Homo sapiens: one gene and its partners. The protein of the gene in region 2 purifies or fractionates together with the protein of the main gene of each other region. This does not show direct contact. Each region holds a gene or a part of one and is shown on either strand. Other genes may lie near its edges.

Region 1 (4,413 bases), on a different chromosome or scaffold from region 2:
TGGCCAGTGAGAGCCATGTTTGTGTGAACTCAGCGTCATGTTGGGCCGGGATGAGGGCCGCACCTGCATGAGCTGGTCGTGCTGGGCAGGGTCGAAGTCGTCTTCAAGGTCCCCCTCCTCGAGGCCCAGCATCTCGTTGCCTGTTACTTTCCGCAGCTTCTCCAGCTTGGCCAGAATCTCCTTCCTCTTCAGGTTCTTCAGCTGCTTGAGCTCTTCCTGCTTCTTTGCTTTCTCCTGCAGGCCCAGGCAGAGAGGGGGAGGGCATGGGCTTTCCTCCAGGGCTGGGGGGTCCTCCCCAGCTCACCCCCCACACTCACCCTCTTCTTTCGCTCCCGAGTCTCTTCCCTCTTCTCCTTTCTGCGCTCATCCTTACGGCGCACGGAGGACGCGATGCTGCGTGGGTAGGTCTTGACCTAGGCGCAATCAGAAAAGCCCACAAGGGCCGCAGAGATGATGTGGGGTTCCCTGGGCCTGAACCCTGGGGGCTGAGTCCTCCCCAGCCCCAGCCACACACCGATGCTGAGTCCGGCTCCTCGAAACGGAAATTGTACTTCTGTTCAAAGTCCTCCTGTTTCTTCAGAAACAGCTCCCCTTCGTCTGAGGAGTCGTCCACAGCCAGCTGGACTGGGGGACCGTGGACCCTGAGGGGCAAGATGTGGTGATGCCAGGGGGCCAGCCAAGTGAGGTCGAGCCCCCCTTTCCTGCACGCCTGGGTACGAAGCGTATGAACTCATTTAATCCTCACAAGAACCCTACAAGGTGCACGCTGCTATTGTCCTCATTTTACAGATGGGGAAACTGAGGCATGAAAGTCTTGAAGCCGAACCAGGATTTGAGGCAGTGCCACCTGGCTCCAGAGCCTATACTCTGTGGCTCTGCCTTACAGAAGACTAACTCTGCCACCATCTGTGAAAAAAATACACACATGGTGCCCTCTGCCTCCTGGCCAGTGCCGCCTGGGAATACTTCATGAAGCGCACCCAAAATCTAGGTCCTGGGGAGATGCAGTGGCTCACCCCTCCTCTTCCTCCATTTCCTCTTCATCTTCCTCCTCCTCTTCCTCCTCCTCATAGCGTTTGTTGAGGATGTAATCCCGCAGGAACCGCTCCCCTTCATCCAACTCAGGGTCGTTCCAGTATTCCTTGAGATGCGTCTGGGGGTGACAGGAGACAGGACTCTGGTCAATGGAGGACAGGGAAGGAGGGCAGGCATGCTCACCACATGGACCTCACAGCCAGCCTCTGGAGTAGGTGACATTAGCCCCATTTTGGTTTCTTATTTTTATTTCGAGACAGGGTCTTACTCTGCCATCCAGGTGACAGTACAGTCGTGTGATCATAGCTCACTGCAGACCCAACCTCCCGGGCTCACAAGATCCTCCCACCTTAGCCTCCCAAGTATTTGAGACTACAGGTGCATGCCACCATGCCTGGCTAATTTTTTCATTTTTTTGTAGAGCCATTTTGCTATGTTGCCCAGGCCAGTCTCAAACTCCTGGCCTCAAGCAATCCTCCTGCCTTGACCACCCAAAGCACTGGGATTACAGGTGTGAACCACGGCACCCAGCCTATCCCCATTTAAAGAGATGTAGGAGCTGAGGCCCAGAGATGTACATATCCCATCTTCAGAGGGTTACTTTCTGTAAATAGGTTGGATGGACGCGGAACACGCGGTCTACTCCATCAGCGACCATGCGTGAGAACTCACCAGTTCCTTCAGGGAATCTGGGTTCCGAATCTCTTTCTGTCCCTTCAGCCACTCGATGTAGTCGGCCTCCTCCTGGGCCTGGGGGAAAGCTAGCACTGAGCATCCGCAGATGCCCAGCCACCCGCCACCCTGTCCCCCAGCAGTCCAGTCAGGCCCCAGTACCCACCTTCTCCTGCCTGGTTTTGGCACGTTTCTGCAGCAAACTGGAGCCGCCCTCCCCAGCGCCGTCCTCGTCCTCACTGTCCTCCACAAATGCCCGGAAGCTGCCCACGAGAGAAAACAAGCCTCAGGACAGGCAGGCTGGCCCCTGTCTGCTGCCCCAGTATTTATTTTATTTTGTAGAGCTGGGGTCTCACTATGTTGCCCAGGCTGATCTTGAACTCCTGGGCTCAAGTGATCCTCCCTCCTCTGCCCACCAAAGCCCTGAGATTACAGGCATGAGCCACCTCACCTGGCTGGCTGCCCCAAGATTAACCCCATTTACTAAGCCCTGAGCTCTCCTCTCAACAAGCTCAGAGCAGTGCTGTGATGTTATTAACCCCGTTTAACTGATGAGGAAACTGAAGCACATAGAAAGTGACAGAGCTCAATTTGAACCCGTGCCTATCCAACCCCCGAGCCTCAACTTTCCTCCATTGGGCCATTCCCGCCCACCCAGCCTCACCTTTCCTTGAGCTGTTTCTGTTCCTCCACATAACTTTGCGACGATGTCTCCTGCAGAGAGGGCCATAGGTCTCAGGCCAGCCCCAGGCCCCTCAGCCCCCCGACCCAGCCTTCACCCCACCCACCTGGAGTCTGTGATTGGAAGTCTCCCCGTCTGAGTTCTCCTCATCAACATATTTGCTGTAAAGGAAAAGTGGGGTCTTCAGAATATATCTTCCAGGGCCCGCCTGTCCCCATGCCCATGCGGAGCAGCTATTCCAAGCAACAGCTGGCGGGGGTCATCGGAGGGCTATGGAATCACTGAGACTCCTGCTCTCAGGGCTATCTGCGATTCTGGTGAGTTTCCAGCGTTTTTTTTTTTTTTTTCTTTTCCAATCATGGGTGACAGCATTTCTTTTTTGGAGCCAGGGTCTCGCTCTATCCCTCAGGCTGGAGGGCAGTGGCATGATCTCGGAAAACTGCAACCTCCACCTCCCAGATTCAAGCGATTCTCCTGCCTCAGCCTCCCCACGTAGCTGGGACTACAGGCGCCCACCACCACATCTGGCTAATTTTTGTATTTTTAGTAGAGACGGGGTTTCACCATGTTGGCCAGGGTGGTCTCAAACTCTTGACCTCAGGTGATCTGCCCGCCTCAGCCTCCCAAGGTGCTGGTATTACAGGCATGAGCCACCATGCCCGGCCTTTTTTCTTTTTGAGACAGGGTCTTATTCTGTTGCCCAGGCTGGAGTGCAGTGGCCTGATCATAGCTCACTGCAGCCTCCATCTCCTGGCTCAATCCTCCTGCCTCAGCCTCCTGAGTAGCTGGGACTACAGGTACACATCATCATGCCCAGCTAATTTTTAATTTTTTTGTAGAGGCGGGGTATGTTGCCCAGCCTGGTCTCAAACTTCTGTCCTCAAGCGATCCTATTGCCTCAGCCTACCAAAGTGCTGGGATTATGGGCATGAGCCACCATGCCCGGCCCAGGCTGCCAGCTTTTTTCCCTCTCCTGCCCCTAAGACCCCCATAGACCTGACAGGGCTGGGAACCAGGGGGTGGGGATGTAGGCCTTCTCCATACCCTGCCTTCTCCAAGATAACCTTCCTCTCGTAGTCCTTCAGGTACATGGGCCGCACTTTCTTCTGCTTCTCCAAGGCTTCTGGGTCCTCCTCACTGTCTGATGACGATGCTGTTAACCCACCAAAGACACCTGCCATCACCCACAACCCCCTTCTTTGCCGTGGCAGAGAATCCCACAGGGCAGGGCCAGGGTTAGACAGAGGATTCAAATCCCAAATCCACCAATTCCCAGCTGTCCAAGAGTATTGTGCTTGTCACCATCTGGTGGGGTTGGGGTCATTCAGTCAGTAATTCCTGCTTTGATTATTATTATTGTTGTTATTATTTATTTACTTATTTTTTTTTGAGGTGGAGTCTCATTCTGTTGCCCAGGCTGGAGTGCAATGGCATGATCTCGGCTCACTGCAACCTCTGCCTCCCGGGTTCAAGCTGTTCTCATGTCTCAGCCTCCCAAGCAGCTGGGATTACAGGTGCCCACCACCGCGCCCGGCTAATTTTTATATTTTTAGTAGAGATGGGGTTTCTCCATGTTGGTCAGGTTGGTCTCGAACTCCTGACCTCAGGTGATTTGCCTGCATCGGCCTCCCAAAGTGCTGAGATTACAGGCGTGAGCCACCGCACCCGGCCATTATTATTATTTTTTTGAGACAGAGTCTCACTCCGTTGCCCAGTGCATGGCGTGACTTGGCTTACTGCAACCTCCGCCTCCCAGGTTCAAGCGATTCCCCTGCCTCAGCCTCCTGAGTAGCTGGGATTACGGGTGTGCACCACCACGCCCAGCTAATTTTTGTTATTTTTAGTAGAGATGGGGTTTCACCATGTTGGCCAGGCTGGTCTCGAACTCCTGACCTCAAGTGATCCTCCCGCCTCAACCTCCCAAAGTGCTAGGATTACAGGCATGAGCCACCATGCCCAGCCTGATTAATTATTATAATTAATTTTTTTGAGAGTTGGAGTCTTACTCTTGCTCAGGCTGGAGT
Region 2 (4,413 bases):
ACGCTGCCTTTTTAGGTCTCTGAGTGCAGGGTGATGGCAGGTTGGGTGCTGGGCACAGGGGCACAAGGACCAAGCAGATGGGCAAAAAGGGCCCAAAGCACTGAGGCCACGTTGGCAGGGGGTGACTGCTCCACAGAGGCAGAGCCAGCTGCTCAGCAGGGCCGGGCAGGGCAGGGCTGGAGGGCTGCGGGGGTGGGGGGACCCTTTGTAATTATTTGGCAACTTTTTCTCCAAATAACGAGAATGCAGTACTTTTGTGTTAAGTGTTAAATTCGTTAAATGTGCATATTTAGAATTTAACCAAAATTCCGTAACTCCGCTCTACCATTTTTTTTTTTTGACCAATAGCCTCGTAGGATAAGTAGGTGCCCAAGCCCCACCTCCCCCATGTCTGTGTCAGGTGACTCATGTCTGGTTCCAGGTGGGAAACCGCCCCAAACCCCATGAACTACCCCACAGGACACACTTACTGAACAGTGCTCCGCCTGCTGGACCTGGAGCCCAAGGATCTTCTCTGAAAGTAGTCTCAGAGACGGCCTTCCACTCTGCAAAGGGGGAAGAGGCGGGTGGGGGCCTCTGCAGGCTCGGCCCAAAGAGGGTCACCCCACCAAGCAGGGAGCGGTTGGCTACTGAACCTCACCCAAGCGACCTACAGTTTGCCTCTCAGTGGAGAGGTGCTCATGGCACTTAGGGTGGTAGCCACCAGCTGCCATTTATAGCATGATGGGCTGGTGATACACCCCTATCAGCCAATAAAAGGAGAGGGCCAGGGGAGGAGTCAGCATCCCCATCTCCCATCTTGAGGCCTCCCTGCTTATTTCAAGAGGGACAGCTCTGGCCAGGCATGGTGGTTCACACCTGTAATCTCAGCACTTAGGAGGCCAACGAGGGCAGATCACTTGAACCCAGGAGTTTGAGAATAGCCAGGGCAACACAGCAAGACCCTATCTCTAAAAAAATAAAAATAAAAAAATTAGCCAGGGGTGGTGGCATATGCCTGCAGTCCCAGCTACTTCAGAGGCTAAGGTGGAAGGATTGCCTGAGCCTGGGAGGTGGCAGTTACAGTGAGCCAAGATTATGCCATTGCACTCCAGCCTGGGTGACAGAGCAAGACCCTGTCTAAAAAAAAAAAAAAGGATGAAGAACGGCTCTGCCCTTGGCACCCTCTAGAGCAGATACGACAGTGGTACCAGGCCCTTAGTCAGTGACCCTGTTTCAGAGGTTAGAGTGGAAATAACTTGCCCTCCGTTGCAATCATTTTTAAGGTCAGCAATTAGCAGAACTCTATTTTTAAACATTCCTTCTAGTTTTAAAGGTTAAAAGAAAAAACAAAAACCCTTTAACCAACAAGTCAGCCACCAGTGACCAGAAACAATGAAGTGACCAGCAAAACAGAAATACAGTATCTTGAGTCACACTCATTCTAAGTACCTTTACTTGACTCTTGAAAGGTTTATATTTCTGTGTGTCCCGAATCTTCTTTTTTGGATGATCAAGAAATAGTACCTAGAAAAATAAAATATAATGATAATCATTTTCATTTTTGGTTTGTAGTAGCAGAACCCCCTCCCCCCGCCACCTTTTGCAAGTAACATCTTTGTGTGTGTGTGTGTGTGTGTGTGTGTGTGTGTGTGTGTGTGTGTGTGTGTGACGGAGTCTTGCTCTGTCACCCAGGCTGGAATGCAGTGGCTCAATCTTTGCTGACTGCAACCTCCGACCCCAGGTTTCAAGTGATTCTCCTGCCTCAGCCTCCCGAGTAGCTGGGATTACAAGTGCCCGCCACCATGCCTGGCTAATTTTTGTATTTTTTAGTAGAGACAGGGTTTTGCCATGTTGGCCAGGCTGGTCTCGAACTCCTGACCTCAGGTGATCCACCCGCCTCGGCCTCCCAAAGTGCTGGGATTACAGGTGTGAGCCAACGCGGCTGCCCTGCAAGTAACATCTTGTAGGGAATCCAAGTGTGTCACACACACATGGAAACAAGGCACTGATATGAATTTCAACTCCAGAAGGAAATTTATTGCACTGACTTAAGCTGATGCCCAACAGTCAGAGACAATAAAAACAAAATCTTGAAATCAAGGAAGTAGGAGAAAAACAGTCAACAGTTAACCAGCAACCAACTTATTCCTATATTATACTTGTATTTTGAGTTGGTTCTACACATCAGGAAGTTGCAAATAACACATTTTAACAGCTCATCTTGCAATCTTAGCATGCAATTTTTTGTTTTGTTTTGTTTTTTGATAGGATCTCACTCTGTCACCTGGGCTGCAGTGCTATAGGGTAATCATGGCTCACTGCAGCCTTAACCTCCTGGGCTCAACTGATCCTCCTACCCCAGTCTCCTGAGTAGCTGGGACAACAGGCACACGCCACCACACCTGGCTAATTTTAAAATTTTTTATAGAGATGGGGTCTCCCCTATGTTACTCAGGCTGGTCTCTAACTCCCGGCCTCAAGCAATCCTCCAGCCTCAGCCTCCCAAAAAGCTGCGATTACAGGCATAAGCCACTGTGTCTGGTCCTTAGCATCATCTTCAAGAAAGACTTGAACATGTGCTGCGCAAGGTGCCAGGGATGGAGTCAGAGTCAGGAGGGAAGGACGAGTCCCCACGGCAGCAGTCTCTGAGGGGGTACAGCAGGAGCACACAGAAGACCTTTCTGTGAGGACACTGCCCGGGGGGTTCTCACCTCAGTTTCACCCTCTGTAAACAAGCATGAACACCTCCAGCATCTTCAATGGATTCAAGGGATCTCTACAGTGCCGTCACGGGAGCACCATAGCAAAGGCTGCTGCCTGAACATTAGCATCTCTGTCACTTCCTTCTGAACGGCTTCAAGTTCCTCACCACACCCAAGTGCTTCAAGCCGGTGGGCAGAGGTGACAACTTAAGTGTCTCTCCCATCTAGCAGACTGGCCTCCCCGCTGTTCCCACTGTGTCCTTTAAACCAACATCCAGGCATTTGCCCATAAACTCAAAGTGACCCCCACCCTGTTCTCCTGTAAATACACACGTACTCGCTCTGCCTGACTCTTCATTCCTGCCTCGGGTGACCAGGAGATGGCAGGCTGCCCTCCCCACCCATGACGCCTTCCCTGCCCAGGGTCTGTATATGTCTTTGAACTTGTTTCCCACGGTGGTGGTGTCTGAATTTGCACTTTCCATCTGAAGAACCAGGGGCTGCCCCAGGCGGGATTTTCCTCGGGACGCCAGAAAGAAGGCAAAGGCAAGCTCCCAGGGCCAGGGTGATGGTTAGGCAAGCGTAACCTGAACATGGGCCACAGGGCATCTGCCAGGATAAACTTGTTTCCTGTGGAGGGACCCTGGTCACGGATGGGACAACTGGACATTAGGCCTTCCTCCAGGTAAAAGGGGTATCAGCACCTTCATTTCTCATTAGGGCGGGGTTGCCAGCTGCTCTGGTATGGGTACCCCAGTTTCGCTGGGGGCTCTCAAAACAAGAGCCTGGCATGGCTCCTAAAACACAGTAAGAACTCAGCACGCGGTATCTGATATTATTACCAAAGTATTCCCAACATAGAGCACAAACCCACACATTGTTAAAACTCCCCAACACAGCAAGGGCGTGAGTGTAACACCCACGGAGCAGGGGCAGGCTGAGTCCCCAGGAGAGAGCCCAGTACCTTTAGGTCATTATGCAGAGCGTGCCCCACTAGAATTCTGCCCTTCAGCATCTCTGCCACTTCCTTCTGAACAACTTCAAGCTCTTCTCCTGGAAAATCAACACAAAGAAGCGGTTTTTTGCAACACACACATCACCATCATTCTGTGAGGAGGCAGCCCCGCTCCTACCCCTGGTCAGACCTAAGACAAATGGTCAGGCCTGCAATGCCACTACGGAGGGTGACTCGAAGCCACCACATCCACCCACCCCCCTGGGAGAAGTGCCTTGTGGGCCCCTGGCAGGGGTGGCTGCGAGAACCACCTCTGAGGAGAGGAATAAAGTGCTCCACACAGTCTGCAAAGTCGGCTCATGGCTGGAGGAGAGCATATGTTGAGTGTAGGCACTGAGAAACTTTTAGAGCCGCCTGGCAGCGTGGTTCTGCCTATTCAACCTCATGATTTACTTGACAATTTCCCAAATGGAAATAAAAACAAAACTGCCCCCACAAAAATGGGTAGAGATGTGTTGCCCTAGGCCCTGGGCTCCAGAGGCAGCCTTGCCTGCTTCTGGGGACCACCCCACCACCAACCCCACTTGTACCCCCCGAACAGGGGTGATTAGACCAAGGGTGGCCCGAGCCAAGTGGGACCAGCTAATTTTTTAAAAATATTTTTTAGAAGGCCAGGTGCAGTGGGTCATGCCTGTAATTCCAGCACTTTGGGAGGCGGAGGCAGGCGGATCACCTGAGTTCGGGAGTTCAAGACCAGCCTGACCAATGTGGAGA
Region 3 (4,413 bases), on a different chromosome or scaffold from region 2:
TGCACACATCTCATTTACTCCTCACAACAACGCTTTGAGTTAAATACAGTTGATCCTTCAACAACATGGGTTTGAACTACACAGATCCACTTATATCCAGATATTTTCAACCAAATGCAGATGGAAAATACAGTATTCACAGGATGTGAAACCCACGTATAAGGAGGGCCAACTGTGGGACTTGAGTATGCGTGAATTTGATTATACACAGGCCATGCCAGAATCAATCCCCCACAGATCTCAAGGGACAACTGTATTTCCCATTTAACAGATGAGCAGATGGAGAACAGCAAGTTGAAATAACTTATTTAAGAGCATTCAACTAGGAGGAGAGCTGAGATTCCAATCTTAAGTTGGCTTAACTCCCAACTCTGTGCTCTTTCTACTACCCCACAATACCTCTATAATTCTATAGAACTTGATGAAATATACCTTTAGATAACTTCTTTTAGCCCATCTAATTTCTAGTTTGTACTTGCAGGCTGCCCCTTTTTCTTCATTTGAATTCTCTTAATCCATTTTGAGAGGGTATCTTTCCTCAAACACTAACCTCTTTGGTTAGATCAGGTATGCCTGGCTTTTTTGTTTACATTTCTTTTCAAAACCTTCAGATTTTTTTGTTTGTTTTTGTTTTTTGTTTTTTGGTTTTTTTTTTTTTTTTTTTGAGACAGAGTCTCGCTCTGTCACCCAGGTTGGAGTGCAGTGGCACGATCTTGGCTCACTGCAAGCTCCGCCTCCTGGGTTCACGCCATTCTCTTGCCTCAGCCTCCCGCCCAGCTAATTTTTTGTATTTTTAGTAGAGACGGGGTTTCACCATGTTAGCCAGGATGATCTCGATCTCCTGACCTTGTGGTCCACCCGCCTCAGCCTCCCAAAGTGCTGAGATTACAGGCATGAGCCACCGCTCGCAGCCAACCTTGGGATGTTTTTAATACTCCATACACATTAATGCAGAGCTTCTAGTGGGATATTTACATTTTTTTTCAGGCTTCCTGTGTATTTATGTATATCTTTAATAAAGATATGCCTTTTGAGTTTTTAATGATTTTTAAATTATACAGCAATGACAAGTGCTTTTAAAAAAATTAAAAGGAAATTTAAGCAGAATTGACAGATAAGGCAGAAGTTCTTCAATCCCTGTTCTGTCTCCTACTCCCAACTTTGCCTAAACCCCCATTCCCCAGCCAGGCCACTACCCTTAGGAGTTTATATCTTTCTAGACCAGTGCTGTCCAATAGAGCTTTCTGTGATGATGGAAATGTCCTGTATCTGTGCTGTCCAGTCCAGTGGCTTCTAGCAGCAGGGGGCTATTGAGTACTTGAAGTGTGGCTAGTGCAACTGAGAACTGAACTTCTAATTTAATTTAATTTAAAGTAATTTAAATTCAAATTCCCTATGTGGCTAGTCACTATTGTACTGGACAGTGCAGTTCTAGACCTTTGTATATGCTTTTTTGTTCACTCATAGACAAAATACTGATTTGTGTGTGTCTCTATATCATAAACGGTCTTATATGTATGTGTTGGTCTGCAACTTGATTTTTTTTTTTAACTCAGCAGTGTGTCTTGGAGAACCTCCCATCTTATTACATAAAGACCTAGCTCATTGTACTTTTTTTCAAATTCCTAATTTTGTCAGTAATTTCCTTTACTAAAATGGATGTGTCAGGTTGTGAAATTCTTTGGGGTTCCCCCCCTCCTCATTATCTTTGATTTGCCATTAAGTGCTGTGATCATGATAACCCGCTGAGAAAAAGTTTGATTTTATTGAGTAATCACCCCATGTTTTGGATTCTTGGGCATGCTATGATTAGAGGCTTTAAAAACCACACTATATTTTCACCACCATTGGCACCAATGACTGTTAACAAAGGAGCCAAGTGCACCGTGGCCAATTAATTTCAGAAGACTTTCTGTGGGCTGGCTGAGATAGAGCTAGGATAGGGTTCCAACCCTGCACTTGGTACTGTGATCTGTTGCATTGGTTCTCAGACTTCAGTGGATGTAAGAATTGCTTAGAGAGCTTTAAAAAAAGTGTGGATGCATGTGTCCTCACCCCTAGAGGCTGTGATTAGTAGACCCAGGCAGCTGTGCTTTTAAGACATACTCAAGTTGATTCTGTCACATATCTAGTATATTGGAAAGAGTCTTAAACTAGTCCAGATGTCACCTTTGGTATTCACTGTAGCAGTGAGCAAGTTTGTTGATTGTTTTGTATCTTAATGTTCTCAACTATCGGAACAAAAATATTCCTTGCTTTGGTAGCCTTCCAGGTTGTGAAAATAAAAAGACATGTGCAAAATACTTTTGGAAATTAAAAGTTGCAAAGTTTTGTAAAAGTATAAAATTCATCTTAAACTAATGCTATACTATGGACCCTGGTGATGGTAAAGTGATTGTTTGATCCTCGGTTCTCTAAGAGTTACAGTTCAAATATGTGAAAAACTTCCCCAGTCTGAGATACTTGACTCAGCTTTGATGTTCTTATTTTCAACATTTTAAAAAATTTTTATTTCACTTCAAGTTGTGGGATACAAGTGCAGAACGTATAGGCTTGTTACATAGGTATGTGTGCCATGTTGGTTTGCTGCACCTATCAACCCATCATCTAGGTTTTAAGCCCCACGTGCATTAGCTATTTAACCTTAATGCTCTCCTTCCCCTCGCCCCACTACCCCGAGTGGCCTGGTGTGTGTTGTTCCCCTCCCTGTGTCCATGTGTTCTCATTCTTCAACTCCCACCTATAAGTGAGAATATGCGGTGCTTGGTTTTCTGTTCCTGTGTTAGTTTGCTAAGGATGATGGCTTCCAGCTTCATCCATGTCCCTGCAAAGGACATGACTTTTTTTATTTTTTGAGGTGGAGTCTTGCTCTGTTGCCCAGGCTGGAGTGCAGTGGTGCAATCTTGGCTCACTTCAACCTCCGCCTCCCGGGCTCAAGGGATTCTCCTGCCTCAGCCTCCCAAGTGACTGGGATTACAGGCACCCACCACCATGCCTGGCTAATTTTTTTTTTGTACTTTTAGTAGAGACAGAGTTTCACCGTGTTGGCTGGGGTGGTTTCGAACTCCTGACCTCTAGTGATCCTCCTGCCTCGGCCTCCCGCAGTGCTAGGATTACAGGTGTGAGCCACTGTGCCCAGCCTGATCTCATTCCTTTTTATGGCTGTATAGTATTCCATGGTGTATATTTACCACATTTTCTTTATCAAGTCTTATTATTAATGGGCATTTGGGTTGGTTCCATGTCTTTGCTATTGTAAGTAGTGCTGCAGTAAACATATGTGTGCATGTGTCTTTATAGTAGAATGATTTATATTCTTTTGGGTATATACCCAGTAATGGGATTGCTGGGTCAAATGGTATTTCTGGTTCTAGATCCTTGAGGAATCGCCACACTGTCTTGCACAATGGTTGAACTAATTTACACTCCTACCAACAGTGTAAAAGCGTTCCTACTTCTCCACAGCCTCACCAGCATCTGTTTCCACATCTTTTTAGAACCTTTGCTGCATGTATCAATTTTTTTTGACATGAATTTTTGTGAAATTTCCTAGTCTAAAAAAGAAACCGATATCTCAAGTTAAAATCTGTTAGTTATGTTAATTTTGGCATTGGTTTGTATGAAGTTTTAATATTTAAAAAAACACAGCTATATCAGGAAGCTGAAAGTGCTGTGTCAGGTGGAAAATTTTTTTATCAGTGGAGATGTGTTTATACGTTGTCATGGTTTTACTCTAGTCTAGGACATTTTGTTTCAGCCATTTTCTAAAATGGCTGTAGGTTCCATTTATTAATATATCTCTGCTATTATGTAATCTGAGCAGTGATATTATACTTCTTGGTATTGTACATAGAATCTAATAGAGTTAAAAGCTTTTTAATAATATTTGCTGCCACCTCACCAAGTTATGATTGTTAGAAACAGTAATTGCTGTGTTTTGACACTGTCATTTTGTACAGTGCAAGCAATCATTTTTACCACAATTATCACATTTTTTCCACTACCAAATAACTTAACAATGAAGCAAGAAAATATTCTTCCCAAATATTTATTATTACCAAGCTTCTTAACGTAGGGGTTTAACTTTTACAGGACGTTAGCCAATTAATCTTACCTTTACCTTAAAGCGTGTGCTTCTATAATGCTTTGTTCAATTTATGTTTGCTTTAGTGACCTTAAAAATTGTTAGAGACTCTTGGAGGTATAAAAGTTGAGAACACATAAAACTAAAGCAAGGATCTGTTTTCTTTCAGGTGCAAGCTGTGGATGAAGCAAGATATAGAGAGTGTTTGAGGATGTTGTTTGCACCACAGTTTATTTTAAATAGTTACTGTAATGACCAGTTTTAAATTGTTAGATAATCTCCAAGGGAGATGAGCTAGAAGGATATAAGACTGAAAAGAGGATACATTT
Region 4 (4,413 bases), on a different chromosome or scaffold from region 2:
CAAGCTAAAAACAAATCCACACATAAAGCAGCTTATTTTAAAGCTTATTTTTTAAAGGAGTCATAAATATTTAAGTGCAAACATCACACTTGTTTATACAGTTTCCTCTAGGAGGGAGGGGATGGAAATGGGGATGAGTAAACATAACAGAGACTGGTTATGTCAGTATGTTACAAATAGGGAAGAATGAGTTTCGGCTCTCCACACATGAGGTCCAATAACACAAATTTAATACACAGAAGTCCTGGCTCTGGAGGGGCAGCTAAGCCCACTAAGGCCCACCCCTCCTGCTCACTGGACTCTGTAAAACAAACAAAAACAAGTAAATTATGCAGGGGAGTCAAAGTTGGGAGAAGTGCCCCAAATGGGGTGAGTTTTCCAATTCTGTCTTTTTCCCTCAAGTAAGAATTTGCAATGAGGATGAACCCCACTTGCAGAGCAGCATAGGCAGCTTTAATTCTAGAAACTCCCTTCTTTCTTACCAGGTAAATCAGGAAAAAAGGTCCCTGTGGACCAGAGTTGGGGGACTGGGGGTGGGAGGAATGCTAGAGAGAAAACAGGCAAAAAAAAGAATCTCTTAATTCAATGTATGAATCCAAATAAGTCACAACTTAACCTTAGCCATGAATGTGTGGCATATACCCATACGTACCAGCCTAGCAAAGACTTTGAAAACCAAAATGAGATTTGAACTCTAATGTGACCCAAACCAAAGCAGCAAAAGCTTGGAGAACTGAAATAAGATTGGAAACACCTGCAGAAGTCTCAGACCAGCCCCTAAGCTATTCATGTTTGGGACAGCTCAAATCAACATAGCAAAGACATAAAGAACAGAACCGAGATTTTAACAAATGCCTCCAAAAGCAAGACAGAAGTTTTGGCCTGAACCTGAAGCAGGGTGGCCTGCTAAAACAGAAACGGCAACATTCCCCAGAAGAATTATAATAGGACCCAAAATCTACACAAAAAGTATTCACAATGATGAGGATAAATTCCAAAATTATGCAACACATAAAGAACCAGGAAAATGTGAGCAATTTTCAAAGGAACAAATGACCAAAACATGCCAGCCACAAGGTGATCCAGATTTTGGGACTATCAAATACTGTCAACAAAAAAGAAATACTTTCTTATAAAGAAAACACACAAGAAATGAAGGAAAAGGTGGGAATCATCAGCAGAAAAAGAAACCATAAAAAAGAACCAAATGAAATCTTAGAACTGAAAAATACAACATCTGAAATAAAAACTCATCAGATAGGTTCAGTAATAGAATGGAGATGACAGAGGAAAGAGTCTGTGAACTTGAAGACCGTTCAATAGAAATGACCCAGTCTCCACCGGGCACAGTGGCTCACGCCTGTAATCCAGCACTTTGGGAGGCCGAGGCAGGCGGATCACAAGGTCAGGAGTTCGAGACCAGCCTGATCAGCATAGTGAAACCCCGTCTCTACTAAAAATACAAAAGAATTAGCCAGGCCTGGTGGTGGGTGCCTGTAATCTCAGCTACTCGGCAGGCTGAGGCAGGAGAATCGCTTGAACCTGGGAGGCGGAGGCTGCAATGAGCAGAGATCGCGCCGCTGCAGTGAGCAGAGATCGCACCACTGCACTCCAGCCTGGGCGACAGTGCGAGACTCCATCTCAAAAAAAAAAAAAAAGAAAAGAAAAGAAAAAAAACCAGTCTGAAGAACAAAGAGAAAAAAAGATTGAAAAACATTCAACAAAACCCTAATACCAAACGTTTTAACTTAAGTGTAGTTGTAATCCCAGAGGGAGAGGCGAAAGATACTAATGCAGCTCTCGCTCTCCCTCTCCCCGCTCTCCTCCCTCTCCCTTCTTCGGTCTCCCTCTGTTGCCAAGGCTGGACCATACTGCCGTGATCTCACCTAGCTACAACCTCCCTACCTCGGGCTCCCCTGATTCTCCTGCCTGGGCCTGCCCAATGCCTGGGATTGCAGGCACGCGCCGCCACGCCTGACTGGTTTTTGTATTTTTGGTGGAGACGGGGTTTCGCCGTGTTGACCAGGCTGGTCTCCAGCTCCTGACCTCGAGTGATCTGCTCGCCTCCGCCTCCCGAGGTGCTGGGATTGCAGACGGAGTCTTGCTCACTCAATGCTCAATGTTGCCCAGGCTGGAGTGCAGTGGCGTGATCTCGGCTCGCTACAACCTCCACCTCCCAGCCGCCTGCCTTGGCCTCCCAAAGTGCTAAGACTACAGCCTCTGCCCGGCCGCCACCCCATCTAGGAAGTGAGGAGCGTCTCTGCCTGGCTGCCCATCATCTGGGATGGGAGGAGACCCTCTGCCCGGCCGCCCCGTCTGGGAAGTGAGGAGCGCCTCTGCCCGGCCGCCACCCCGTCTAGGAAGTGAGGAGCGTCTCTGCCTGGCCGCCCATCATCTGGGATGTGACCAGCGCCTCTGCCCGGCCGCCCTGTCTGGGAAGTGAGGAGCGCCTCTGCCCGGCCGCCCTGTCTGGGAGGTGAGGAGCACCTCTGCCCGGCCGCCACCCCGTCTGGGAGGTGAGGAGCGTCTCTGCCCAGCCGCCACCCCGTCTGGGAGGTGAGGAGCGTCTCTGCCCGGCCGCCACCCCTTCTGGGAGGTGAGGAGCGCCTCCGCCCGGCCGCCACCCCGTTTAGGAGGTGAGGAGCGCCTCTGCCCGGCTGCCACCCCGTCTGCGAACTGAGGAGTGCCTCTGCCCGGCCACCACCCCGTCTGGGATGTGAGGAGCGCCTCTGCCCGGCCGCCCTGTCCGGGAGGTGAGGAGTGCCTCTGCCTGGCCGCCCCATCTGGGATGTGAGGAGCGCCTCTGCCCGGCCGCCACCCTGTCTGGGAAGTGAGGAGCACCTCTGACTGGCCGCTGTGCAATCTTCCAAGTGTGAAGTGACAGCCTTTCTGCAGGTGTACCCAACAGCTCCGAAGAGACAGTGACCATTGAGAATGGGCCATGATGATGATGGCGGTTTTGTCGAAAAGAAAAGGGGGAAATGTGGAGAAAAGAAAGAGAGATCAGATTGTTACTGTGTCTGTGTAGAAAGAAGTAGACATAGGAGACTCCATTTTGTTCTGTACTAAGAAAAATTCTTCTGCCTTGGGATGCTGTTGATCTATAACCTTACCCCCAACCCTGTGCTCTCTGAAACATGTGCTGTGTCAACTCAGGGTTAAATGGAAAAAAAAAAAAAGAAAGAAAGAAAGATACTAAGGCAGAAAAATACATTTGAAAAAAAAAAGGTGGAAAATCCCCCACGTTTGGTCAGATATAAATTTACAGATTCAAGGAGCTCAACAAACACCAAATAGGATAACTCAAAGAAAAACATACCAAGATACATCTTTTTGTTTTGTTTTGAAACACAGTCTTGTTCTGTTCTCCAGGCCAGAGTGCAGTGGCACATGGCTCACTGCAGCTTGGACCTCTCTGGCTCAAGTGATCCTCTCACCTCACCATACCCGAGTAGCTGGAACCACAGGTGCACACCATCATACCCACTAAATTTTTGTGTTTTTTCATAGAGACAGGGTCTTGCTATGTTGCCCAGGCTGGTCCAAAGCACTTTTTTTTTTTTTTTTTTTGAGACAAGGTCTCACTCTGTCACTCAGGCTGGAGTGTAGTGGCTCAAGCACAGCCTCCACCTCCCAGGCTTAAACAATCCTCCCACCTCAGCCTCCTGAGTAGCTGAGACCACAAGTGTGTGCCACGGTACCCAGCTCATTCTTTTGTGTGTGTGTGTGTGTGTGTGTGTGTGTGTGTGTGTGTGTGTGTGTGTGTAGAGACAGGGTCTCACTTTGTTGTCCAGGCTGGTATCAAACTCCTGGGCTCAAGCAATCTTCCTACCTCAGCCTCCCAAACTGCTGGGATTACAGGCATGAGCCACGGTACCCAACCAAGACACATCTTAACGAAACTATTCAGCCAGGAAGGGGAGGGGAGACATGAGGGAGTGAAGAGAGGAAAAAAAGAAAAAGAATATAAATGTATCAGCCAGGCGTGGTGGCTCACGCCTGTAATCCCAGCACTTTGGGAGGCTGAGGCAGGTGGATCACCTGAGGTCAGGAGTTCACGACCAGCTTGACCAACATGGAGAAACCCCGTCACTACTAAAAATACAAAATTAGCTGGGCATGGTGGCACATGCCTATAATCCCAGCTACTCAGTAGGCTGAAGCAGAAGAATCGCTTGCACCTGGGAGGCAGAGGTTGTGGTGAGCCAAGATCGCGCCATTTGCACTCCAGCCTGGGCAACAAGAGCGAAACTCTGTCTCAAACAAAAAAAAAAAAAAAAAAAAAAAAAAAAAAGGTAAACATGGTAAATTATATGGGTATACTTTAACTCAATAAAAAATAAACTAGGCCAGGCATGGTGGCTCACACCTGTAATCCCAGCACTTTGGGAGGCCAAGGCAGGCAGATCACTT
Region 5 (4,413 bases), on a different chromosome or scaffold from region 2:
GCATCAGGAGATCGAGACCATCCTGGCCAACATGATGAAATCCCATCTCTACTAAAAAATACCAAAATTAGCTGGGCGTGGTGGTGCGTGCTTGTAATCCCAGCTACTTGGGAGGCTGAGGCAGGAGAATCATTTGAACCTGGGAGACGGAGGTTGCAGTGAGCCGAGATCACGCCACTGCACTCCAGCCTGGTGACAGCGAGATTCTGTCTCAAAAAACAAAAAAGTATTTAGGGTAAAAAACAAGGATATACTTTTTGCTATGAAATATATCTTATGGCCAGGCGTGGTGGCTCATGCCTGTAATCCCAGCACTTTGGGAGGCCGAGGCGGGTGGATCACCTGAGGTCAGGAGTTCGAGACCAGCCTGGCCAACATGGTGAAACCCCGTCTCCACTAAAAGTACAAAAATTAGCCAGGTGGTGGTACACACCTGTAATCCCAGCTACTTGGGAGGCTGAGGCAGGAGAATCACTTGAACCCAGGAGGCAAAGTTTTCAGTGAGCTGAGATTGGGCCACTGCACTCCAGCCTGGGTGATGGAGTAAGACTCCGTCTCAAAAAAAAAAAAAAAAAAAAAAAAAAAAATCTATCTATCTATCTATCTATCTATCTATCTATCTTATGGTTTGAATCATAATTTGAATGGAAATGTCTGACCCAAATTCATTCAATTATGTGAACTTTAAAAGAAATATTAATTTTTTAAAATTTTGAGTACATAATTATATACAAATACAAATTTTGAGTGACAGTTTTTATAGCCACTGTCCATTTCCTATAGAAAATGCCATTTTTCTACTGCAGACATTCCAGTTAATAAAATGAATAGTCCATATTTGCTCAATTCATTTAAGCAATTGCCGTCTACAAAGCCACATATATAACATTGTTCCTGAGATTTATGGATTTATTGATTGAGGTTTTCAAAAGCAATGAAACCCTCTGATGGAAAGGATATCTCGTTGTTTAGGAACGTATGAAAGCTTTTTTCTACAAATATTGAGATTTCAGAAAAATAGCTTAATAAGATGAGAAATGTTTTAAATATGTTTTTGATAACAAGAATTAATAAAGTCACTGGTATAGTTTTGCAGCGTGCCAACCTACGTTTTGTTTTCCTAGGTGTGTTTCCATTGTAGAAAACCTGGTCATGGAATTGCAGATTGCCCCGCCGCCCTTGAAAATCAAGACATGGGCACTGGGATATGTTACAGGTGTGGGTCCACAGAGCACGAAATAACCAAGTGTAAGGCTAAAGTAGACCCGGCTCTTGGTATGTGTTTCTTTCAGTTTTTTGTTTTGTTCATGGGGAAAGCCAATAAATAGCACCTTGGGTATTTTTTTAACACAATTTGTTACGAGTGTGCCACTTAGTATTTGGAAATCATATGAGATTAAATTTTAAGTTATGTAAATATATTTTTTATTCAGAGTATTTTAAAATAATGTTAATTTTATGACTTGCCATATGTATTGTCAACTGAATAGGAACTGTTGATTTTTACAGGCGAATTTCCTTTTGCAAAATGTTTTGTTTGTGGAGAAATGGGGCACCTGTCTAGATCTTGTCCTGATAATCCCAAAGGACTCTATGCTGATGGTAAGTACTGTTACCCTCATATAGCAGAAATGGTGAGTCATCGTGCAGTTGTGATTTAATTTACACTCAATCACAGTTCTTGAATAAATTCTTGAATAAATTGCAAAACCTTGAGAATTACATTATTTTTATCAAGTGCTATCATATGTACTAGGCTTTTTGTGCAATTTGACTTCAGATGTTAATAAAACAAATCAGAAAAAACTAAGGTGTATATTTCCAACTGTGCTTGCTTCATCATTTGTGAGACTATGTCATACATTTCTACTTTTAGACATAACAGAAGCAGAGAGATTATATCTCAAGCTAATATGAGGTTTTTAAAATCGTATTATATATTCAGCCTCAGCCAGCATATCATTTTGGTGGAGGGGTGGGTACAGATGATTCAATATTGTAGTAATGTTTGCTTCTGAATTTTTTTTCTTAGTTATTTGTCTGGTATGGGATCATGTAGCTTTTTTCTCTTTAACTCGGGTAATTAAGGTTCACACAGTAAAGTCTATGCGGTCTAAAGCTTTAAGGCGGAGGTTGTTATCTGTTAATGTGATGGCTGGTGCCATCAGGCTCTAGACGTTTCTTGTGTCATGTCCTGGGTTTCCCTCCTGGAGAAGTCCAGTGAAAAAGCATAGCTTTTGGAGTTGGTCAGACTTGGGTTACAGCGCCAGCACTGCCACTCACTAGCTGGGGGGCTTTGGCCAACTACCAAACTCTGATCTCCGTTTCCTCACCTATAGAGTGGAGATGATAAAACTATATTTTATTGATTCTAAGATGCACAGTTTTTCAATTTTAATCTCTTGGAAATCAGAATGTATCTTACCGTTGGTGGGTCCCATATAATTGACAGCTGTTTTTCTTTCTGAGAGGTATGTGCAATAATGATACATCTTATAATCAGTGGTGTCTTAGAGTTGATGAATTATGGTATTTGCCTAAAGAATTTTTATAAGGATTAAAATGTATTATTCAAGTGCTTCTCTTTCACTATGGCATATAAAGAGGCCAGGGCCTGGAAAATGCTCAGGTGCATTTCAGTTTTGAGCTTATAAAACTGGGTAGATAACATGACTAGTGAGCAAAAATGGCTTTCACTGGTCAACCAAAGTGACTAGCTGTAAAAAAAAAAAAAAAAAAAAAAATTAATGCAGCAAGGAGAGTAGATCCCATAGATGTGAAAATTTGGCCATATTTGCCTGTGTGTGCCTTGATTTTATACCTTGTAATCTTTTGTTTACAATAAGGGGCTTTCTGCGATTTGTTTTAATTTAGAACACTTTAGTAGCAATAGAAACACTGGATACATTTTTGTATGGTACATTTGATGTATATAGAATTAGTACTTTATTTTTAAGAGGTAAAGCATTATGTTGGGGGAAAAGTAGGGTGGGTTTCCACATTTGCATTTTTATGTTAAAAATAAAGTCAAGATTTGGGGGAAAAAAAAAAGAAAATTCAGCCAGATTTGTATCTGATTAGGTCATTTTTCTAAGTCACTTAACATTTCGAGCATGATCAAGATAATGCTTGACCATTAAGCAATAGTGTTTGATCATTAAGTGAAACACTTATTTTAGAAACCACATGTGTTGTAATTCACAATCCTGGAATGTTGTTTAAAGTAGGCAGGTGGGCATTTTTATAGGGTTAGGGTGCCTGGCCAGTGGAAGGCACTGAAACAAAAATTAACTTTATTTCTTTCATAAATGCTTACCCCCATCTGATCTGTACAGTAGAACAGTAGTTTCTAATCTGTTTTTGGGCCATTGACTGTTTGAGAATCTGACATGCTATTCAGGAAAGTGCATCTGCTTACATCTTTTGTTTACAGGTCCAAGGGTTCACAGACTCTTGATTGTCTAAGCATTGTTAAGATCCAGGCTTCTGTGCAATAGCTCTTGAACAAGTGCCTTCCATCATATCTCATTTCTTTTTCCTACTTCTCAAGGCCAGGTGCAAGAAGCAGTGGGTGGGTACAATTTAGTGCTCTGTGAGGTTAAAAGGAATGGAGAATGAATTAATAGGAATAGTGGCACCTCCCTATGATCCTGGTCTAGCTACCTTTACAACTGACAGGGTTGTGAGGATCCAGTAAGATGTGAAAGTGCTTTGAGATGTTAAAAACCCCTTGCAAGTATGAGATGGTATTCAGTGGCTTTGCTCTTTCAATAGGTGGCGGTTGCAAACTTTGTGGCTCTGTGGAACATTTAAAGAAAGATTGCCCTGAAAGTCAGAATTCAGGTGAGATCTCTGGGCCTCTACTTAGAAGGGGTGAGATTAGTATTCCTCTGCGTTTTATTCTGCACTTGTTATTAATAACTCAATTGGGATACTAATGATTTTAAGACAACCTGTTTTCCTACTGTAGCAATGACTTAATCTCTGTCAGCAATAGACACACATAGTATTGAGTAACTGAATAGTTGGGGGAAAAAAGTGACCAGTAAGCCTTAGGGGACCCTGACTTTATAAGACACCTGATTCATAAGCATTTATATTTGCTAACTAATGAATTTAATATAATAGAGCCAATTCTGTTACTTACAGAAAAATATGAATTCACTGAGAAAATAAAAAATATGAAATAACTTTCAATAGCCTTAATATTGAGTGTCCTTATGTATGCTTTGCTTTGTATGTACCTAAAAGATTCAGAGTTGATTGCAGAAACTACCAAAAATATTAAAAATGTGTTATCTACACAGTATCTGGCGATTTTCTTCCTGATGAAATACCAGCCTTATTCATCAAACACTTCAGAGATGTTCACTCTACCTATGGCAGACTTTTAAGGAAGTGGAGATCATTATT
Region 6 (4,413 bases), about 130 Mb from region 2:
CTGAAGTCACTGTAATGTATTTTTGTTTTTCAGATGATTTGGTTGAGTTAAGTAAAGCCAAATATTCGAGAAATATTGTTAAGAAATTTCTCATGTATGGGTAAGTTGTTTTATGTATAAAATACATTTTTTCTTTGTCTTTTGAAGACATGGTTTCCAACTGTGCTCAGATGCGAGATAGGAAGTCTGTGGTCTTTATAAGTAATAGTAATGGCTCTCAGCAGATGCTTGTGTTGTTTTTAGAGAGTATCATCTTAAATACAATTATCGAAATTAATGTAAAATTATGGTACTGCCTTCATTCCTAAAAAGATACATGAGAAATGTCCTGCAAATCTCCTTGAAATTTATGACTTTGATGGAGGTATACCCTCACCTTCTGATTTGTTGGCATTCAAAAGTTTTAAAGACAGAGTGAGCAACAGATAAGCACTTTTGAAGTAGACTGGTATTGTAGCATAGTAAAAATAATTTTACATGATGGATGATTTGTGAATGTTTATCTTGAACCTCTGGAAGAAGAGAAATAGAATAATTAACTTATAATTAGCCACCAGTATTAAGAGGGTGGAGACTGGGGAGGGACAGGTGAGTAAACTGATAGAGGGTCAGTGGGTTAGAAAATGTCAACATGGGAGAATTTCCTAAATTAAGTGGAATTAGTACTTGTCTTGACCAATCTTTTTGAGTGTATTAATGTGCTAGAATATGATAATCAACAACAAAAAGTGTAATATATGCAGTTGACAAAATTTTCAAAAATGTATTCCTAGCTGTAGTTTCCAGCTGTTTAATTCTTTTAGGATATAGTTAAAATACTTGTGATTAAGTCCCATCTTCAAAAGGAATCTTAGAATATGATTTTCTATTTCCTTGAATCTTTTATCTTTTTTCCTGCCCTACTGTTTTTTTCGAGCAGAACAGTTTAATAGGAAATGACATTTATTGAGCATTTACTATGTGCTGGCCACAGCTTCTCAATGCATGCTAGCTCATTTACTCCTCAGAGTGACACAGATTGATGAGTTGGTCTTGGGAGAAGTAAGTTGTGTTTTATTGTCACCCAGCTTTCTCCTTCTATCATTTATTTTTCCATGATTGTGTTGCGTTTAGAAGTAAACCACAGATTGCAGAGATAATCAGAAGTTTTAAAGGCCACGTGAGGAAGATGCTGCGGCATGCGGAAGCATCAGCCATCGTGGAGTACGCATACAATGACAAAGCCATTTTGGAGCAGAGGAACATGCTGACGGAAGAGCTCTATGGGAACACATTTCAGCTTTACAAGGTGACATCTCCAGAAGTCTTTTTCTAGTATTTTTACTTTTCGATATGCTCTTCCTTAACTTCCGGTGCCCTATATATCTTTTGAATGTATTTTTACTGTGGCTGGTTCTTTAAGAGACCATCTTATGCCCTTGATTTTCCCTCATGCTTTATTTTGTTTCTGGTATAGTGAGCAAGTTTCTCTTTCTCCAGAGCATTGGCTTTAAATCCCCTTCAATTCAAACTTTGTTCCTCTCCTGAGTGCTCTGTGTGTAGCACTTCAATACTTCTATTTTTACAGTCATACTGAAGGACAAGACTCCCAATAGTTAGCAAAGTTGTGTGACCACCCCCAACCAGCTCTGGCTGAAGTGTATTGGGCTCTCTGTTGCTAGCTTCTCCTGTGTTTTTTCATGTGCATGCATTGCCCTTCTTCAGATTGTGTCTGGAGATGAAGGGGAACAGAGAGACCTAACCTTGGATAGAGTACAGGGATTGAATCTGAGAATAGTTAGCAGTGGGACTAGCTGGTTAAAGAATCTATTTCAAACCTTGGAACATAAATGCACACATGTGTCTGAAGGGATATGGATTGATTCCCGGGTTGCCTCCATTAGCCAGGTTCAATTCTTGGGTTGAATTTGTTGCTGTACTAATTTTGTTAACAGTTCGTTATATTTAATAGGAATAGCCAACTAATTATAAAACATATGGTGGCAAGAATTTGTGAAGTGACTACTTGATCTCATAATTGGGCAAGAGCTAGGTGCTTGGCAAGTAACTGTTAGCTGGTTAACTTGGTTGGCCTGGCTCTTTAAATGCACTGATAGATACACAGACTGAGAATCAGCTAATCAGGTTACTCCACAAGGATATACAGCAGAGCTTTCATTATGTAAATATGGGAAATCTTAAATTTGTTAAAACTTATTTTAAAATGACTAATTACTTTTCTTTTTCCTGAAGTGAAAAAATTGATTAAATTTAGAGGGGTTTGATTGTTTTGTTTTGTTGCAGTCAGCAGATCACCGAACTCTGGACAAAGTGTTAGAGGTACAGCCAGAAAAATTAGAACTTATTATGGATGAAATGAAACAGATTCTAACTCCAATGGCCCAAAAGTAAGAAAGTTGTTTTTGTTTTGTTCTTAAGAAATGACATTCAAAGGAGGAAGGTTTTCCATAACTGTTGCCCAGAAGAGGTAGCTATTTCCTGCTTACAAGTATTAATCTATTCTAAATAAGAGTGCAAAAGTGTTGGTTTGAAACCATTCTTGGTGCAAAAGGAGATTTCTTTTTCTGATATTGTACCCTATAAAATGATAACTAACATGCATTCGTGATTTATGAGCTTTTTTAAGCAATGAAACATTCTTTCCCCAAATAAAATGTTACATGGAAGCCATGTATACTAAACAGTTTCACAAATATAATCTGTTACTCAAATTTGGTTGTAGGCAAGGTACAGTGGCTCACGCCTATAATTCTAGCACTTTGGGGAACCAAGCTGGGAGAATCACTTGAGGCCAGGAGTTCAAGACCATCTGGGGCAATAGCAAGACCCCATCTCTACGAAAAAATAAGAAAATTAGCCAGGCTTTATGGCATGTGTGTATAGTCTTGGCTACTTGGGAGGCTGAGAGGCAGGAGGCTCACTGGAGCCCAGGAGGTCATGGCTGCAGTGAGCCATGGTTGTGCCACTGCATTCCAGCCTAGGCAACAGAGTGAGACCTTGCTTTAAAAAAATAAAAAAAAATTAAAAAATGGATTGTAAGACTTGGAAGCCTGTGCATGTGCCCTTCATGGCATCTGTCCAGTAGTGGAGTGGCTGAGCATAGCTTTTGGGACCCGACTGCCTGGGTACGACTCCTGGTTCCCCACTCCCCCAACTATTACTAACTGCAATCTTTGGCAACTTAACCTCCCTGTGCCTCAATTACCATATTTGTAAAATTGGGATAATAATAGTACAGACTTCATAGGAATTTTGTGAAGATTAAATGGGTTGGTTGTTCCAAAACACTCAGAACAGTGCTTTGCCCATAAAGGCAGTGTTAGTTTTTGCTGTCTACTTGGGTATCACCTGTGAACTTTAGGTCTTTTATGCCTGACCATCGGCCTCCACTGTACACCTGGATCCACCAAGTGTCACACTAGGGGGTTTGGATTAAGTAGGTGTTGTTGCAATTGCTGACAATGTTTGGTTCATTCAAGTTTTAATTCTGCTAAAATTATTTTGTGAAACAGATGGATTGTGAAGGGTGTTAACAGAAATAAAACAACTATTAAAAAAATACATCCACATGTGGATTTCTAATCATTATGTCCAGTGCTGGGGGAAAAAATGTAGATGTCCTTATTTAATAGAGCAGAGCATATTTCAAATGTTGATTTTATGTTTGCCGATTAAATACTAGAAGTTTATACTCTGGTCTTGGTTGTAGATGGCACTAAATCAATTTTACCATCTAAATTTTTGTTTAAGTTTTAGTATTTCTGAAAAATACAGTCTATTTTATGACAAATTGTATTCAGTAAAACCATTTCACTTGTTTAGATTACTTTAGGACTTTGAGATTACCTGTCTTTGTATGACTGTAGTGCCAGATCTGTTGTGTCTTTTTGCTTTTTTTTTCTGTTTTCAGGGAAGCTGTGATTAAGCACTCATTGGTGCATAAAGTATTCTTGGACTTTTTTACCTATGCACCCCCCAAACTCAGATCAGTAAGTTCTTGGTTTTTGTTTTTAAACTAAAACATGGAGGAGGAGCGGTGTAGAAATTTGAAAAACTGCTTTGATGTACGTTGTCTTGTGGAAATTTTAGAGTTGCTTCCTTATTTAGGGAAGATAATTTACTCAACTCCCTTTGAACACGTTTGCTAATTCCATTTAGGTTTTATTCCAGTAAACAATAGAATTGACCCTAGTTTTACTAATCATATTAAATTTTTATATCTTAATTATAATCCAGAGAGTATCCGCTGGCTAACCTAATCTGAAAATTAACTAACTCGTGGAGGAATATTCAAGCATTCGGATAGTTTTAAATTCAACTGTGCTAATACAAAAAAAAAATTAGCTTGGCATTAAAAGGTTAGAGGAGGATATGTTTGTAAAACTAAGTGGACGATGAAAACCTGGACTTTAT
Region 7 (4,020 bases), on a different chromosome or scaffold from region 2:
CAAAAGTTATCTCCATCCTACTCAGAAGGAAAGGGCTCATGGAAAACTGCAGAGCTCTTGCCTCATGTAGAGGAGGCAGCAACTGACTGACTACTGTCATGTAAAATACAAGCCAATGTCACCAAACCTCCCAGTATTTCAAGAAAAGCGGGAAATGTGAATTTCAGATGAATTCTTTCAATATTTAAAAGACAGCAACTAATTCAATTTTTTTCAAACTCTTGAGGCCAGAAAAATCGGCCTGGCCCACAGGTCACCAAACTATGATCTCTGAATTACAGAAACCAATGGGCTTGCAAACGGAAAAAACCTACAGCAAAATATTAATTCTGGGTAATGAGTACATTGTAAGGTGCTATAGTTTCAATGTGTCCCCTCCAAAATTCAGATACGGAAACTTAACAGTCAATGTGATGGTATTAAGAGGCAAAAGCTTTAAAAGGTGATTAAGCCATGAATGGGATTAACCCATTTATGCCTACTAGTGTTCCATTATCAGAACACTAAGCTTGTAGGAGTTATTTATATCCTACTGCTCAAGGTCATCGCCAAGGTCTGATTTTTCACACACAAAAAAAATTTGCAACCTCTGGCATAAATGGGTTAAAGTCTTTATAGAAGAGGCTTCATGAAGTGAAGCTGTGGCACTGCTCCCATTCTGTCCTGTCTGCCATGTGAGGGCATGGGGTTCCTCCCCTCCAGAAGATGCAGCAACAAGATGCCATCTCAGAAGCAGAGAGGCGCCCTCATCAGTCAACCAAACCTACCAGCACCTTGATCTTCAACTTCCCAGCCTCCAGAATTCTGAGAAAATAAATTTCTGTTTTTTTTTTTTCAGACGGATTCGCTCTTGTCACCCAGGCTGGAGTGCAATGGCGAGATCTCGACTCACTGCAATCTCCGCCTCCCGGGTTCAAGCAATTCTCCTGCCTCAGCTTCCCAAGTAGCTGGGACTACAGGAACCCACCACCACGCCTGGCTAATTTTTGTATTTTTAGTAGAGATGGGGTTTCACCATGTTGGCCAGGCTAGTCCTGAACTCCTGACCTCAGGTGATCCACCCGCATCGGCCTCCCAAAGTGCTGGGATTACAGGCGTGAGCCACTGAGCCTGGCCCTCTGTTGTTTATAAGTTACCCAGTCTTAGGCATTTTTTATGGCACCATAAATGGACTGAGGGATTTTTTATACCATTTTCTCTCTTTCTCTGTATAACTTAAGTATTTCCTGTCTGTATTTAAAAAAAGGTAATTACTGGCTGGGCACAGTGGCTCACGCCTGTAATCCCAACACTTTAGGAGGCCAAGGTAGGTGGATTACCTGAGGTCAGGAGTTCGAGACCAGCCTGGCCAGCATGGTGAAACCCCATCTCTACAAAAATTACAAAAATTAGCTGGGCATGGTGGCGGGTGCCTGTAATCCCAGCTACTCGGGAAGCTGAGGCAGGAGAATCGCTTGAACCCGGGAGGCGGAGGTTGCAGTGAGCCGAAATTGCGCCATTGCACTCCAGCCTGGACAACAGAGTGAGACTCCATCTCAAAAAAAAAAAAAAAAAGTAATTACTATTTTTCACCTTTCTGTACTTGTGAAAATTTTGTAAGTAAACAGTTCAGGGAAAAGAAGACTCTTTTAGGAGGACCTTTTCCCCATCTGGGTGTGAGGTAGATGCTGGAAGTACCCATCCAAGCTGCTTATAGGTCAGAAGGTACTCTGCAAGGGCCAAAAAAAGAAAAAGCTGCCCTTCTGGATGGCAGTGTTCCAAAGCACCTCTTTTCTTCCCTCTCCTCATTTTTTTTTTCTCCTCATCCTGCCCTAACAGGGCCATTCAAAAAAAAAAAAAAGACCGAGCGAGCGAGAAAGCAAGGAAGCTTAATTTGGTTGACTTGTGTTTTATCTTCACATGAAGCACCTATAGCCATAGATTATTCATTGTTGAACCTGAGTGATGGGGGGCATATGGACATTCACTATGCCATTCTACTATCCTGTATGTGCGAAACTTTTCACGATTAAAAAAATGTTTTTCAAGTTGAATGACAGAAGAAGAAAAAAAATGTTTTAAGTGATCAACAAAATCATAGCATGTTTTCTTTCAGAACAATTCAGGAATATGAAGCAAGACCAATCCAGATACCCAACTGGCACTTTACATTTTGTAGTATGTTACTTTATGAAACAGTCTTCTCATAGTAAGTGGCTATCAGCTCAATTCTGTAGTTTTAGAATAAGGCAATGCTAAATATTACCTTCGACTCAACTCTGGTTTGAGTGCTCCAGAGCCTTCAGAAGGTGCTCCAGCGATCAGGTGGGCTGCAAATCTCTGCACTATGGGATGATAATGCCTCTGAAGGGAAAACGGGACAATCACATTCTGCACAGGTCAGTCCTTTACAAAAAACACTAGCCACAGCAAAGATTTTCTTAAATAAAATTACACCAAATTTTTTTTCATCACCTATGTACAGTATATGTAATTCATTAGAAGCACATACCCACAGAAAGAATATTATCTTTGCTAATAGGATTAAAACACAAATCAAGTTACCAGTGAAGTAGTTTAGTCTTGCTTTTACAATATAAATAGAAAAATCAAAAAGCAATTCCTCTTTCAGAGTGAAAAAAGTTAATTTACAACAGGTTACCTGCCACTTCTATTTTCTACAAGTCTCACTCTAATGCTGTCCATACTGTAGGATCACTGCATAGGTGAAACCATCTTGAAACAGGGCTTACTAAAGTCTCCTTGGATAAGACTCAACAGAAATGTACCTGATAACAAATCCTCTGAAGAGTGTTAGGGAAAGATTTCAATAAAGGGAAAGGTTTCAGTAAATCTTCCACAACTGCACCCTACAGAACTGACACTGTTTTCTGCTTCCTTAGAAAATGTACCTCAACAGCTTAAAGAATAGTAACAGCAAAGTAAAATGTAGCATACTAACACAGGAATTCTAAAAAAGGCAGCCCCAGAACAAAATATAATTAAGTACTCTGGCAATAACAACTATTTGAAGAAAAACTGGAAAACAATTATTCACAAACATCCCCAAAAAGAAAAAAACCAGGGCCACTCTTACCCGCAGAGCATGCAGTTCCCACAGAGCAGTGTTCTGAGCATTGCAGTACTCAGGCTCATCCAGTTCAGGAAGGAAAACTCCACTTCCCTGAGATTCACTGTCAAGCAGTAGATCTGTTTTGGGGAAAGTCTGCAAAAATGTCACATAAAAAGAATTGGTTAAATTAACATTGTTAATATAAGAGGTGTTACTGGTTTGTAGTTGTATTTGCATTTAAATTTATGGTTGTATAAGAGCTTTGCATAAAGTCTTTACACCTAGATTTAATAAAAAACAATTTAAGTTTATATAGTAAGAACAAGAGTTGCAAAAAAAAATTTTATCTTTGCTTGCTTTGAAAATTAATTTTATCTTGCAAAAGAAAAAAATATGCTTCTCACCTTGCAATCACACTTTTAGAAATCTGATAGAAATAATTACATCAGATAAATACATAAAGATATTCACTATAGCATCATTTGTAATAGCAAAAAAAGAAATAACCTATATCAAGAGAAATAGAAAGAAGCAGAAAAACCAGACTGCCTACATTTGAATATCACTTCTACCACTGACTGGCACTGCTACTCAAGCCAAGACACTTAACCTCTCTGGACCTCAGTTTTCCCACATGTACAATAGGAACAAGAATAGTAGCTACCTCAGAGTTATGAAAATTAAATTTTTGTAAGGCATTTATAACTGGAAGGCACATAGTCAGAACTATGGTGTTTGTTAAGCAAAGAATTAAATAAACCTTACATAAAGAGAGTAGTGACATTATAATGTGTTTACCATGATTAAATGCTAAGGTTAAAAAAGTGGTAGAATATATAGCATAATCCTCTTTCCATTAAAATACAAAGTTGAGTTGTTTCTATGTGTATGTGTTTATATATGAACTTTAAAAGGCTGCTGGAAAAATACCCACCAAATGGTAAATGGATACCCACCTAATGACACTG

The links.
Region 1: the proteins of REXO4 (region 2) and KRI1 purify together in Homo sapiens (co-immunoprecipitation; 2 studies listed by BioGRID and IntAct, with this or other methods). This does not show direct contact.
Region 3: the proteins of REXO4 (region 2) and OCRL purify together in Homo sapiens (co-immunoprecipitation; one large-scale study listed by IntAct). This does not show direct contact.
Region 4: the proteins of REXO4 (region 2) and ZNF512 purify together in Homo sapiens (affinity purification with mass spectrometry; 3 studies listed by BioGRID and IntAct, with this or other methods). This does not show direct contact.
Region 5: the proteins of REXO4 (region 2) and ZCCHC9 purify together in Homo sapiens (co-immunoprecipitation; 2 studies listed by BioGRID and IntAct, with this or other methods). This does not show direct contact.
Region 6: the proteins of REXO4 (region 2) and PUM3 purify together in Homo sapiens (affinity purification with mass spectrometry; 2 studies listed by BioGRID and IntAct, with this or other methods). This does not show direct contact.
Region 7: the proteins of REXO4 (region 2) and NOC3L purify together in Homo sapiens (affinity purification with mass spectrometry; 2 studies listed by BioGRID and IntAct, with this or other methods). This does not show direct contact.

What each region holds. Positions count from the first base shown.
Region 1 is NC_000019.10:10,559,296-10,563,708, forward strand, and holds part of KRI1 (protein KRI1 homolog), read right to left. Parts: intron 3,543-4,413; coding exon 3,434-3,542; intron 2,551-3,433; coding exon 2,496-2,550; intron 2,422-2,495; coding exon 2,372-2,421; intron 1,971-2,371; coding exon 1,874-1,970; intron 1,786-1,873; coding exon 1,708-1,785; intron 1,154-1,707; coding exon 1,017-1,153; intron 642-1,016; coding exon 515-641; intron 414-514; coding exon 318-413; intron 235-317; coding exon 64-234; intron 1-63.
Region 2 is NC_000009.12:133,407,337-133,411,749, forward strand, and holds part of REXO4 (RNA exonuclease 4), read right to left. Parts: intron 3,738-4,413; coding exon 3,649-3,737; intron 1,507-3,648; coding exon 1,432-1,506; intron 546-1,431; coding exon 471-545; intron 1-470.
Region 3 is NC_000023.11:129,570,719-129,575,131, forward strand, and holds part of OCRL (inositol polyphosphate 5-phosphatase OCRL), read left to right. Parts: intron 1-4,413. UniProt on the Homo sapiens protein: Catalyzes the hydrolysis of the 5-position phosphate of phosphatidylinositol 4,5-bisphosphate (PtdIns(4,5)P2) and phosphatidylinositol-3,4,5-bisphosphate (PtdIns(3,4,5)P3), with the greatest catalytic activity towards PtdIns(4,5)P2.
Region 4 is NC_000002.12:27,592,549-27,596,961, reverse strand, and holds part of ZNF512 (zinc finger protein 512), read right to left. Parts: intron 1-4,413. UniProt on the Homo sapiens protein: May be involved in transcriptional regulation.
Region 5 is NC_000005.10:81,307,437-81,311,849, forward strand, and holds part of ZCCHC9 (zinc finger CCHC domain-containing protein 9), read left to right. Parts: intron 1-1,124; coding exon 1,125-1,275; exon of another isoform or gene 1,276-1,509; coding exon 1,510-1,602; exon of another isoform or gene 1,603-3,538; coding exon of another isoform or gene 3,539-3,590; intron 3,591-3,774; coding exon 3,775-3,843; intron 3,844-4,413. Other genes in the region: ACOT12 (acetyl-coenzyme A thioesterase), read right to left, coding at 3,539-3,590. UniProt on the Homo sapiens protein: May down-regulate transcription mediated by NF-kappa-B and the serum response element.
Region 6 is NC_000009.12:2,826,649-2,831,061, reverse strand, and holds part of PUM3 (pumilio homolog 3), read left to right. Parts: intron 1-33; coding exon 34-100; intron 101-1,113; coding exon 1,114-1,288; intron 1,289-2,283; coding exon 2,284-2,387; intron 2,388-3,910; coding exon 3,911-3,989; intron 3,990-4,413. UniProt on the Homo sapiens protein: Inhibits the poly(ADP-ribosyl)ation activity of PARP1 and the degradation of PARP1 by CASP3 following genotoxic stress. Binds to double-stranded RNA or DNA without sequence specificity. Involved in development of the eye and of primordial germ cells.
Region 7 is NC_000010.11:94,335,532-94,339,551, forward strand, and holds part of NOC3L (nucleolar complex protein 3 homolog), read right to left. Parts: intron 3,206-4,020; coding exon 3,077-3,205; intron 2,344-3,076; coding exon 2,246-2,343; intron 1-2,245. UniProt on the Homo sapiens protein: May be required for adipogenesis.